Linked DNA regions of Homo sapiens. The protein of the gene in region 1 interacts with the protein of each later gene in a biochemical or structural test. Each region holds a gene or a part of one and is shown on either strand. Other genes may lie near its edges.

What was found. Proteins that work in one complex are often made in the same cells at the same time.
Region 2: the proteins of SYNGR3 (region 1) and SLC6A3 form a complex in vitro, tested with the Homo sapiens proteins (one study listed by BioGRID).

The regions. Positions count from the first base shown.
Region 1 is NC_000016.10:1,988,065-1,993,758, forward strand, and holds the start of SYNGR3 (synaptogyrin-3), read left to right. Parts: upstream 1-1,905; 5' UTR 1,906-2,038; coding exon 2,039-2,137; intron 2,138-3,909; coding exon 3,910-4,147; intron 4,148-4,571; coding exon 4,572-4,714; intron 4,715-4,798; coding exon 4,799-5,008; 3' UTR 5,009-5,694. UniProt on the Homo sapiens protein: May play a role in regulated exocytosis. May indirectly regulate the activity of the plasma membrane dopamine transporter SLC6A3 and thereby regulate dopamine transport back from the synaptic cleft into the presynaptic terminal.
Region 2 is NC_000005.10:1,417,941-1,421,620, forward strand, and holds part of SLC6A3 (sodium-dependent dopamine transporter), read right to left. Parts: intron 2,764-3,680; coding exon 2,629-2,763; intron 1-2,628. UniProt on the Homo sapiens protein: Mediates sodium- and chloride-dependent transport of dopamine. Also mediates sodium- and chloride-dependent transport of norepinephrine (also known as noradrenaline). Regulator of light-dependent retinal hyaloid vessel regression, downstream of OPN5 signaling.

The DNA.
Region 1 (5,694 bases):
AGAGTCTGTTTTTGAAGGCATCCAGGCCAGTGGAACTCTAGTGCAAGGAAAAGTTCTGGCTTGAGCTGGTGTTCCAGAGCTGTTGACACGCAGACCAAAGGAGTTAGCACAGAGGGAGAGACCTCCCCAGGATCGCGCCCTGGGCTCCTAAGGCTCACAGGTCACAGAGGAAGGACCCATGAGGGAGGAGGACCTCCAGGAGGGGCATAGTGGCTCACGCCTGTAATCCCAGCACTTTGGGAAACCAAGGTGGGCAGATCACTTGAAGTCAGGAGTTCGAGACCAGCCTGGTCAACATGGCGAAACCCCGTCTCTACTAAAAATACAAAAAAAAAAAAAAAAAAAATTAGCTGGGTGCGGTGGCACACCTGGAATCCCAGCTACTCCAGTGGCTGAGGTAGGAGAATCACTTGAGCCCCTGAGGCAAAGCTTGCAGTGAGCCAAGATTGCGCCACTGCACTCCAGCCTGGGTAACAGAGTGCGACTGTAACTCAAAAAATAAATAAATAACTAAAGAAATAAATGAGTCGACAGCAGCATCAGACTTGCCCTTGGGATTGGCACGGAGAGGTCAGTGGCAACCTTGAGTTTAGGTGGCGGTGGGAGCTGATTCTGCCGGGTCAGAGGGAGAGAGAGGAGGGTGTTGCAGGCAGAGTTTGCTGCTAAAGGAAGCAGTAACGTAAGGCAGCTGGAGGGGAGGTGGGGTCAACAGTGTTTGGCTTTTAGGAGAAAGTGCAGCATGTCTGGGTGCTGATGTTAGTGATGAAGTAGAGAATGAATGACACAGAGGGGAGGTCTGTGGCCAACAGGTGAGAGGGGTTGTGATCGGACGCACAGTGTGATGGACTTGGAACACAGTGAGTAGCGCCTCTGGCAACACCTGCTCTGCCCACCTGTGCCCAGCAAGGCTGAAGAATGAGCTCCAGGGGGGCTGGGCCACGCAGCACCATCTGTGCACCCGGCTCGTGTAGCAGGGACCTGGGTTGCTTATTATCTGAAGTACAGGGTGGTAACAGTCTCCGCCACTACACAGGTCAAGCGCTTGGCGCTGTAAATGTCAGTGCAGACATCTCAGTGCTCTAGACAGAAACCTAGGAGTCATCTGAACTTCCAGCCTGCTAGGAACATGAGGAGAGGGACCTTGTTGCACCCAAGGCTGGGGTCTGTGGAGGGGACTCAGCGGGACACAGGGCAGCCAGGCACCACCCCCACCCGACTCCTAGTCTCTGATGCCGCTCCCTGCCCTCCATTCCAGACTAGGCGCCGCAAGTACGCTGGGGAGACCCAGGAGTAGGGAGGGCATTGGGAGCACCACCACCTGGCCACGGGCAAGGAGCGGAGACACCGAAACCAACACTCCCAGCGGCGCTGGCCACGGTGGCTCTGTCCCCTCCCTCAACAGGTGCTCCTGGGGCCAACGCCTTTCTTCCCACCAGATCCTCCCCGCCAGAGGCTAGAAGCTGTGATAGCAGCTAGAGCACAGTGGGGGGCCATGAGAAAGACCCCAGTTATCCATCTGGTCTTCTTGGGACCAGGGCCAGGGAGCCGGTCCCCTCTCCCGTGGGTTGGGGGAAGATGCTGCAGCCCGTGGACCTCCTACCCCTTTACTCCCTCACCCAAGTGCCCTTCCCAGAGGAGCGGACTCCTCCTGTCTGTCCTCCCGGCTCTAGCAAAGTCTGCGCCCAGCACCCGAGCCCCACCCTGCCCCCGGGGACCTGGCTGGTGGGTTCCTGAGGATGGTCTCCATCTCGGGACCGGGGCAGGCAGGTGAGGGTGGGGGATGGGAGGTGGGCGCGGCGGAGGGAGAGGAGGGACCCGGCCCCGCGCGCATGGACCCAGTGGGGGGCGCGGGCGCGGCCCCGCCCCGTCCCGCGCGTCCCCGCCGCGGCCGGCGCGCGCTCCCGGGAGGCGGCAGCGGCTGCAGCGTTGGTAGCATCAGCATCAGCATCAGCGGCAGCGGCAGCGGCCTCGGGCGGGGCCGGCCGGACGGACAGGCGGACAGAAGGCGCCAGGGGCGCGCGTCCCGCCCGGGCCGGCCATGGAGGGCGCCTCCTTCGGCGCGGGCCGCGCAGGGGCCGCCCTGGACCCCGTGAGCTTTGCGCGGCGGCCCCAGACCCTGCTCCGGGTCGCGTCCTGGGTGAGTGGTCCCTGCCCGGGCCCCCGCTCCCGCCCCTGCCTCGCGACCTTCAGGCCCCTACCAGCCCCCTGCCCCCTACCCCCTGCCCCCTGCTTCTCGCCCCCCGACCTCACTCACTCTCATCCTCGCCGGCCCCTCCCCCGCCGGCCTCAGGTTGGGGTGACGTCACCGGGCAGGGCGCGCCCACCTGCGGGCGGAGGAGGGGCCGGCGGCGCCGGAGAGGGACCTTGAGAGGTCACCGCCGGTCGCCTCTACCCCTACCTCCTCCCCGGGTCTAATTTCAGTCCCTTTCCGCAGCCCTTACTCCGTTTTTCCTGTTCTCGTGACCTGGAAGCAGGGACGGGGTGGGGACGGAATTCTCCGAGGGGCAGGAGGGGGCTACGGGAACCGAGAAGCGCCTCCCCTTCCCCCGCACACACACCCTCGGGTCTCCTTGGCAGGGAGCCTGTCCCCTGGCCCCCAGTTCCAGCTGTGAGTTGAGGGAGGAGAGGCTCTGGGCTGGGAGGGCTTCCTGGCGGCGGTGTGGAAGGCAGGTTTGGGAGCAGCCTAGCCCACTGGGGCGTCCCTGGGAGGGCCCTGCTGCTCCTTCCCTCCGGCAGGGGAGGTGGCAGTTGGGTGCCGAGCTCTGGGTTTTGTCCAGGTGGCAACCTCTGGGCCAGCCGCACCTCGGCGCCTGTCTTGGAGGAGGGCGGTGCCCACGGTGGGGCAGGGGCTTTGGCCTCCCCTGCGGAGTGGCTCTGACCAGACCGGGAGGCAGGACGCTGCGTTTTGGTCCGAGCGCACGTCCCGACTTGTGGCCCACTCTTGGGGACAAGTGCATGTCCCGGCTTCCCCCTTGGCTCCACTCTCGGAGCTGGAGCGGGAAAGGAGCGAAGGGATGAGGTTGAGGCTGGAGGTCGTTTCTTGGAAACACAGGGCTGCCCCGTGCAGCGCTGGTTAAAATGACTGCGGTCCCCCTCATGCCTGTCTCCCGGAACTGGTGGGCAGGAGGCATTGAGGTTTGACGGAACCTCAGAGGTCAACGGTGTCATCTTTTCAGCCCAAACACTTACAGGTGATATTAATAATCAGTCACGTGGGGGCTGTCATCCCTCGGGTACCCACCACGTGCAGGAAGCTGGGTGGACATGTCTGTCCCAGCACTGCATGAGCTGTGCCCGTCACCCTATTTGCATGCTAGAAAACAGGCCAGACAGTTCCCAACCGCGCAGGAAGCAACAGCTCCGCTGCCTCCATACCCTCCCTCCCGCCCCGCTCTGCCTGCTGCACTCTCACCTCCCCTTCGCCGTTCCGGCTCCAGCCTGGGAATCGCGGGCCCAGGTGAAGGCTCCTGTTCCCACACTCTTGAGTGGGCTCTGAGGGGACTCCACGGGCCCACGCGGTGCAGAGTACCTGGCTTGAATCAACCCCGGCTTTTGTCAGCCATGTGATCCCGGACAAGTCACTTCACCTGTTGGGGTCCCAATGTCCCCCGCATTTATAAAGAGAATAAGAACAATGGCGATCCCACGGGGACTTTCTGAGGATTTGGTGAGGGGACGCATGTAAAGTGGCTGTTTAACACAATGTCTGGGCATAGTAGATGCTCACTAAACGGCCCGTGTTGTCAATAATTACTAAATACGCGAGGGTTCGGGAAAGAAAGAGGTGACACCGCCCCCCACCCAGATACGGGCCTGGGAACGCAGGGACAGGCCCAGGGGCGTGGGCGCTCGAGGCGGGCTCGCAGAGGTCGGGTCGCCGCAGGGCCCTGAGCGCCGCGCCGCACGCAGGTGTTCTCCATCGCCGTCTTCGGGCCCATCGTCAACGAGGGCTACGTGAACACCGACAGCGGCCCCGAGCTGCGCTGCGTGTTCAACGGGAACGCGGGCGCCTGCCGCTTCGGCGTCGCGCTGGGCCTCGGAGCCTTCCTCGCCTGCGCCGCCTTCCTGCTGCTCGATGTGCGCTTCCAGCAAATCAGCAGCGTCCGCGACCGCCGGCGCGCGGTGTTGCTGGACCTGGGCTTCTCAGGTGGGCGGGGCCGGGGCGGTGAGCGCGGAGAGCCTTCCGGGTGGGCGGGGAGGGGGCGGGGCCTGGGCGGGGAACACCGCTGGAGTTTCCAGCTGGGCGTGGCCGTGACGAGGGGCGGGGACTGAGGCAGGGAGTGTCAATGGGCCTCCCGGGTGGGCGGGGAGGGGGCGGAGCCTGGACGGGGAGCGCCGCGGGACTTTCTAGGTAGGCGGGGCCCGGGTCTGGGCGGAGCCTGGGCGCGGAACGGGTCTGGCGCTCCCGGGTGGGCGGGGTCAGCGCAGGAGAGGGAGGCGGGACCTCGCGCCACGCGGCGAGCCCAGGCGAGGCGCCCCAAGCCTCGGGCCCACCGACCTTTCCTCCTCCGGGCGAGGCCGCCGTGGGCCACCGCGTGGAGCGTCGCCCTGACGCGCCGCACTGTTCGCAGGACTCTGGTCCTTCCTGTGGTTCGTGGGCTTCTGCTTCCTCACCAATCAGTGGCAGCGCACGGCGCCAGGGCCGGCCACGACGCAGGCGGGGGACGCGGCGCGGGCCGCCATCGCCTTCAGCTTCTTCTCCATCCTCAGCTGGGTGAGTGCGGGGCCCGGGAGGGCGGGGCGAAGGGGCGGGCGCTCGGCTGATCCCGGCTGACCCCGCTGACCCCGCCCCGCGCAGGTGGCGCTCACCGTGAAGGCCCTGCAGCGGTTCCGCCTGGGCACCGACATGTCACTCTTCGCCACCGAACAGCTGAGCACCGGGGCGAGCCAGGCCTACCCCGGCTATCCGGTGGGCAGCGGCGTGGAGGGCACCGAGACCTACCAGAGCCCGCCCTTCACCGAGACCCTGGACACCAGCCCCAAAGGGTACCAGGTGCCCGCCTACTAGCGGCTGGCAGGCACAGACCAGGGCTCCAAGGCCACCCCACCAACGCAGGCCCCAGGGTCTCCGGGACCTCCCTTGGGTCCTTCCAGCTCAGTGCCGCGGACAGAGTAGGTGGCCGCTTTGCGCCATCCGGGGCCAAGAGGGGGTGGACCCGCGTGTCTGGGCTGCCCCTGCCAAGTTCCCCCAGTCCCTCAGCACCTGGCCCCAGGACTGAGGTCCTGAGAAGGGGATAGCACTGCCCAGGACGTGTGTCCCTAGCCTGGAATGGACTGGCCTGGGGAAGGCTTTCCCCTCTTGGGCCACACCTGCTCACTCTGGGGTTGGGGGTCCAGCTGCCCTCTACGATCAGGTGCAGGGGCTGCCCAGGACAAAGCGGGGGCAGGGGAAAGACACCACCCTCGCCCCAAGACTGGGGATCCTGGCCACTGTTCCCATCCCATGTCCCTGTGGGTAGTGACTGTCTCGTTTCTGTCATGGTGGTGCGTCCCGTCCGGAGCCACTCTCCACTTTCTCTCACAGGCTGCTAGAACAGCCCAGCCCTGTCAGTGTTGTGATCATGGTCCAGTCTTCGGGTTTCACCTCCTAGTACTCCACAAGCTGCTCCTCTCTCTGTGGCCCCGGCCCCTGCCCAGGTGTGGGTGGTTCTGGCCAGGAAGGCACAAGGTAGCTGTGGGCCAAGACACCAGCCC
Region 2 (3,680 bases), on another chromosome or scaffold:
CCCTCTGTCCTTTGGGCAGCATGTCAGAGCCTCAAGGCAACCCCAGTTCCTGGGACAGTGTGTTTGGAGGCAGATGGCCAGGCCCCGCAGTCAGGACTCTGCAGGTGGCCAGTGTTTCAGCATGAGGGGAGGAGCCAAGCCGAGAGTGGCTGGGTGGGCAGTGGGTGGAGAGGCTCATACCCTGATGTGGCTCCCATGCTGGTCATCAGCCACCTGCCTGGCCAGGTAGCTGCAGGCTGGATCAGGTGTCACAGGGGAGCGCCTGCCTCCTCCTCACCCTGATCTGTGTGTGCAGCTCAGGCCTCTGCCCAGTGCCACACCAGAGCCAGTGCCCATGGCTGCCTCCCTGGGCCTCACCTCATGCACTTTCACTCCAGGACCTGCAATTGTCCTTTCCTTCCATTTCTTTCCTGATTTCTCTTCACTATACATCAATCCATCATCTATTATCTATCAATCAATCATCTATCTATCTATCATCTATCACTGTCATCTATCAATCCATCACCAATCTATCATCTATCTGTCATCTCTATAATCTATCAACTGTCTATCATCTATGAATATATGAAGTACATGTGTGTGTATGTATCTATCTCCATCCATCCTATTGTATATCCATCCTATCTACCTACCTATCATCCATCCATCCACCCATCCATCATCCATCCATCCACCCATCCATCATCGATCCATCCATCCATGCTATCCAGCTACCTATCATTCATCCATCCACCCATCTGTCCATCATCCACCAATCCACCCATCATCCATCCATCCATCCATCCACCCACCCATCCATCATCCATCCATCCATCCATGCTGTCCAGCTACCTACCTATCATTCATCCATCCACCCAAACATCCATCATCCAGCAATCCACCCATCATCCATCCACCCACCCGTCATCCATCCATTATCCATCCATCCATCCATCCTATCTAGCTACCTACCTATCATTCATCCACCCATTCACCCATCCATCATCCATTCATCATCCATCCATCCATCCATCCATGCTATCCAGCTACCTACCTATCATTCATCCATCCACCCAGCCATCCATCATCCAGCAATCCACCCATCATCCATCCACCCATCCATCCCATCCATCATCCATCCATTATCCATCTGTCCATCCTATCTAGCTACCTATCATTCATCCACCCATTCACCCATGCATCATCCATTCATCCATCCATCCATCCATCCATCATCCATCCATCCATACTATCCAGCTACCTACCTATCATCCATTCCTCCATCCACCCATCCATTATCCATACATCCAGCCAGCCAGCCTTCCATCCACCCATCCTATCTATCCATTCTATCTACCCACCTATCATCCATCCATCCTATCCACCTACTTACCTAGCATTCATCCATCCATCCATCCATCCATCCATCCATCCATCCATCCATCCAATCTATTCACTGTCTCCACCTAATTTCTGACATCTCATCTTTGTAATTTGTTCTCCAGTGAGCATCTTTTCACATGCACTGGTGTTTGTTTTGCCTCCTCCTGGGGCTGCCTATTCTTCCTAGCTGGAGCACTAGGCTCTACGTTGTCCTTGTGGTATTTTTCTTTGATTCTGTAACATGCCATGGTCCTGCAAACACACCCCTTGGCTTCATTTTGGCCTTTCTGGGGTCCAGACGCCCTGCTGACTTCATGGTTTGTCTGGCTCCAGCTCTGCACTTGTGGGCCCCCGGCCACAGCTGATTTTGCTGCCCTGGTTGTCCTCCTCTCTCTTCCTTGGCTCCCGTGGGCCACACGCCTGCTGCACCCATGGCTCCTGTCTCCACAGGGCTTCCCCTTCAGTGCTGCAGGCACACTTCCACCCCCACCCCCACCCAACTGCTTTGCAGCCTCATAGGTGCCATGTCCAGGTGCCCTCTCTCACTGCACCTGTCAGCTGCTGCCTCCCTGGGGCTTCCTGGGAGGCTTGCAGCCATGCCCGCCCATCCCTTCTCCCCTTCCTTCCCACTTCTGCCTTGGGTTTACACTTGCCTCATGACCCCCAGACCTGGCTCCACCGGCCCACCCACACAGGGCAGCACCTCTCAACGGCCTCCTGCCTCATACCCCAGCTGAGATGGCCCTTCCCCTCTTGCTGCATTGTCCTCCCACAGCAACATGGATGCCCCTGGGCGGCTTTGGGGCCTGCCACCTCCCCCACTTAGTCCACCTGATTTCCAACGATGCCCCAAGGGAGCTGCCATTTTTGTCATGCCAGCCTTCCGCCAACAGCTGCTTCTGTTTCTGGGCCTGTTTGCCAGGAAGGGTGCAGCCCTTTCTCCTCCCTTTCTGGACAAGGGTCCCATCCCCCATGGCCCAGCTGAGTCTCCTCTCTCCGGGAGGCTTTCTCCAAATATTTTAACCCTGAATTATGTCTTCTTTTGCTGACCAAAGCTGCAGCCTGAGTCTAGATGGAGTTTCTGATGTAATTTGATTTAGATGACTCGTGCTGTATCACAGGTACTTGGGATTTGGCTTCCCGAGGAAAGAACCCTGGTGTCTGCAACTCTGACACCTCTCAGCCCTGGCAGGCAATGCATATGGAAACCTGGGAATGCCAGAGCCCCTGTGGACTGTGAAGCAGTGAGCAGACTGTACTCACAGACGCCTCGCAGAGCCGGTAGAAGTCAACGCTCAGGTATGCTCTGATGCCGTCTATGGCTCCAGGGAGGGTGACCCCACGCAGGAGCAGGGCAGTGAGGACCACGTATGGCATGGTGGCTGTGATCCATACCACCTGCAGGAGAGGACAGTGTCACCAGGCTGCACAGGCAGGGCCCTTGGTGGGAGCAGACACTGGCACAAGGGCACCGGGTTGCCCTGACGGCTTGTCCTCTGATTGGGAGGCCCAATTCCCAAACATTTCCTGGGACGCCAGCTCAGCAAATGCTCCTTGGAGTGAGAAGGTCAGACACTTTCTGTCCTGCACACCCTCCCCAGGGATGGAAAGGGAAGAACAACTTGGCAGGGAAAGCACATTCCTTTTCTGCATTCGGTCCGCCAGAGTAGCTGGGAGTGGCTGATGGGGGTTTTCTGATGCGTGGGACGTGAGTGGATTCACACTGGTGAACGGCACTGTGGCACGATGAAGGGCTGCTCTGGGCTGTGTCCCTGCGGGAGGCTCCCGTGGCTGGTGCCATACTACACGCACTTTTCCAAGGGAGGAGTCGTATCTTGGTCAAAACTGGTTTTGGCCCATATAACAACCAAAGTTTTTTTTTTTTTTTTGAGATGGAGTTTTGCTCTTTTTGCCCAGGCTGGAGTGCAGTGGCATGATCTTGGCTCACTGCAACCTCCGCCTCCTGGGTTCAAGCAATTCTCCTGCCTCAGCCTCCCACGTAGCTGGGATTATAGGCACGTGCCACCGTGCCTGGCTAATTTCGTATTTTTAGTAGAGATGGGGTTTCATCATGTTGGCCAGGCTGTTCTTGAACCCCTGACCTCAGGTGATCTGCCCGTCTCAGCCTCCCAAAGTATTTTTATCAACAAAAAAATCATCTTGTGTGTGCCTTCCTGCCAGAAACACTGCTGTGAGTGCTTCCCTCCTGAGGCCCTTCCCCAAACACAGCCACACGTGGACCCAAAACCCAACTGTGCCGTGTGTCCGCCCAGCCCAGCCACGGCCACGTGTCCCCCCACCCACCCATGGCCGCG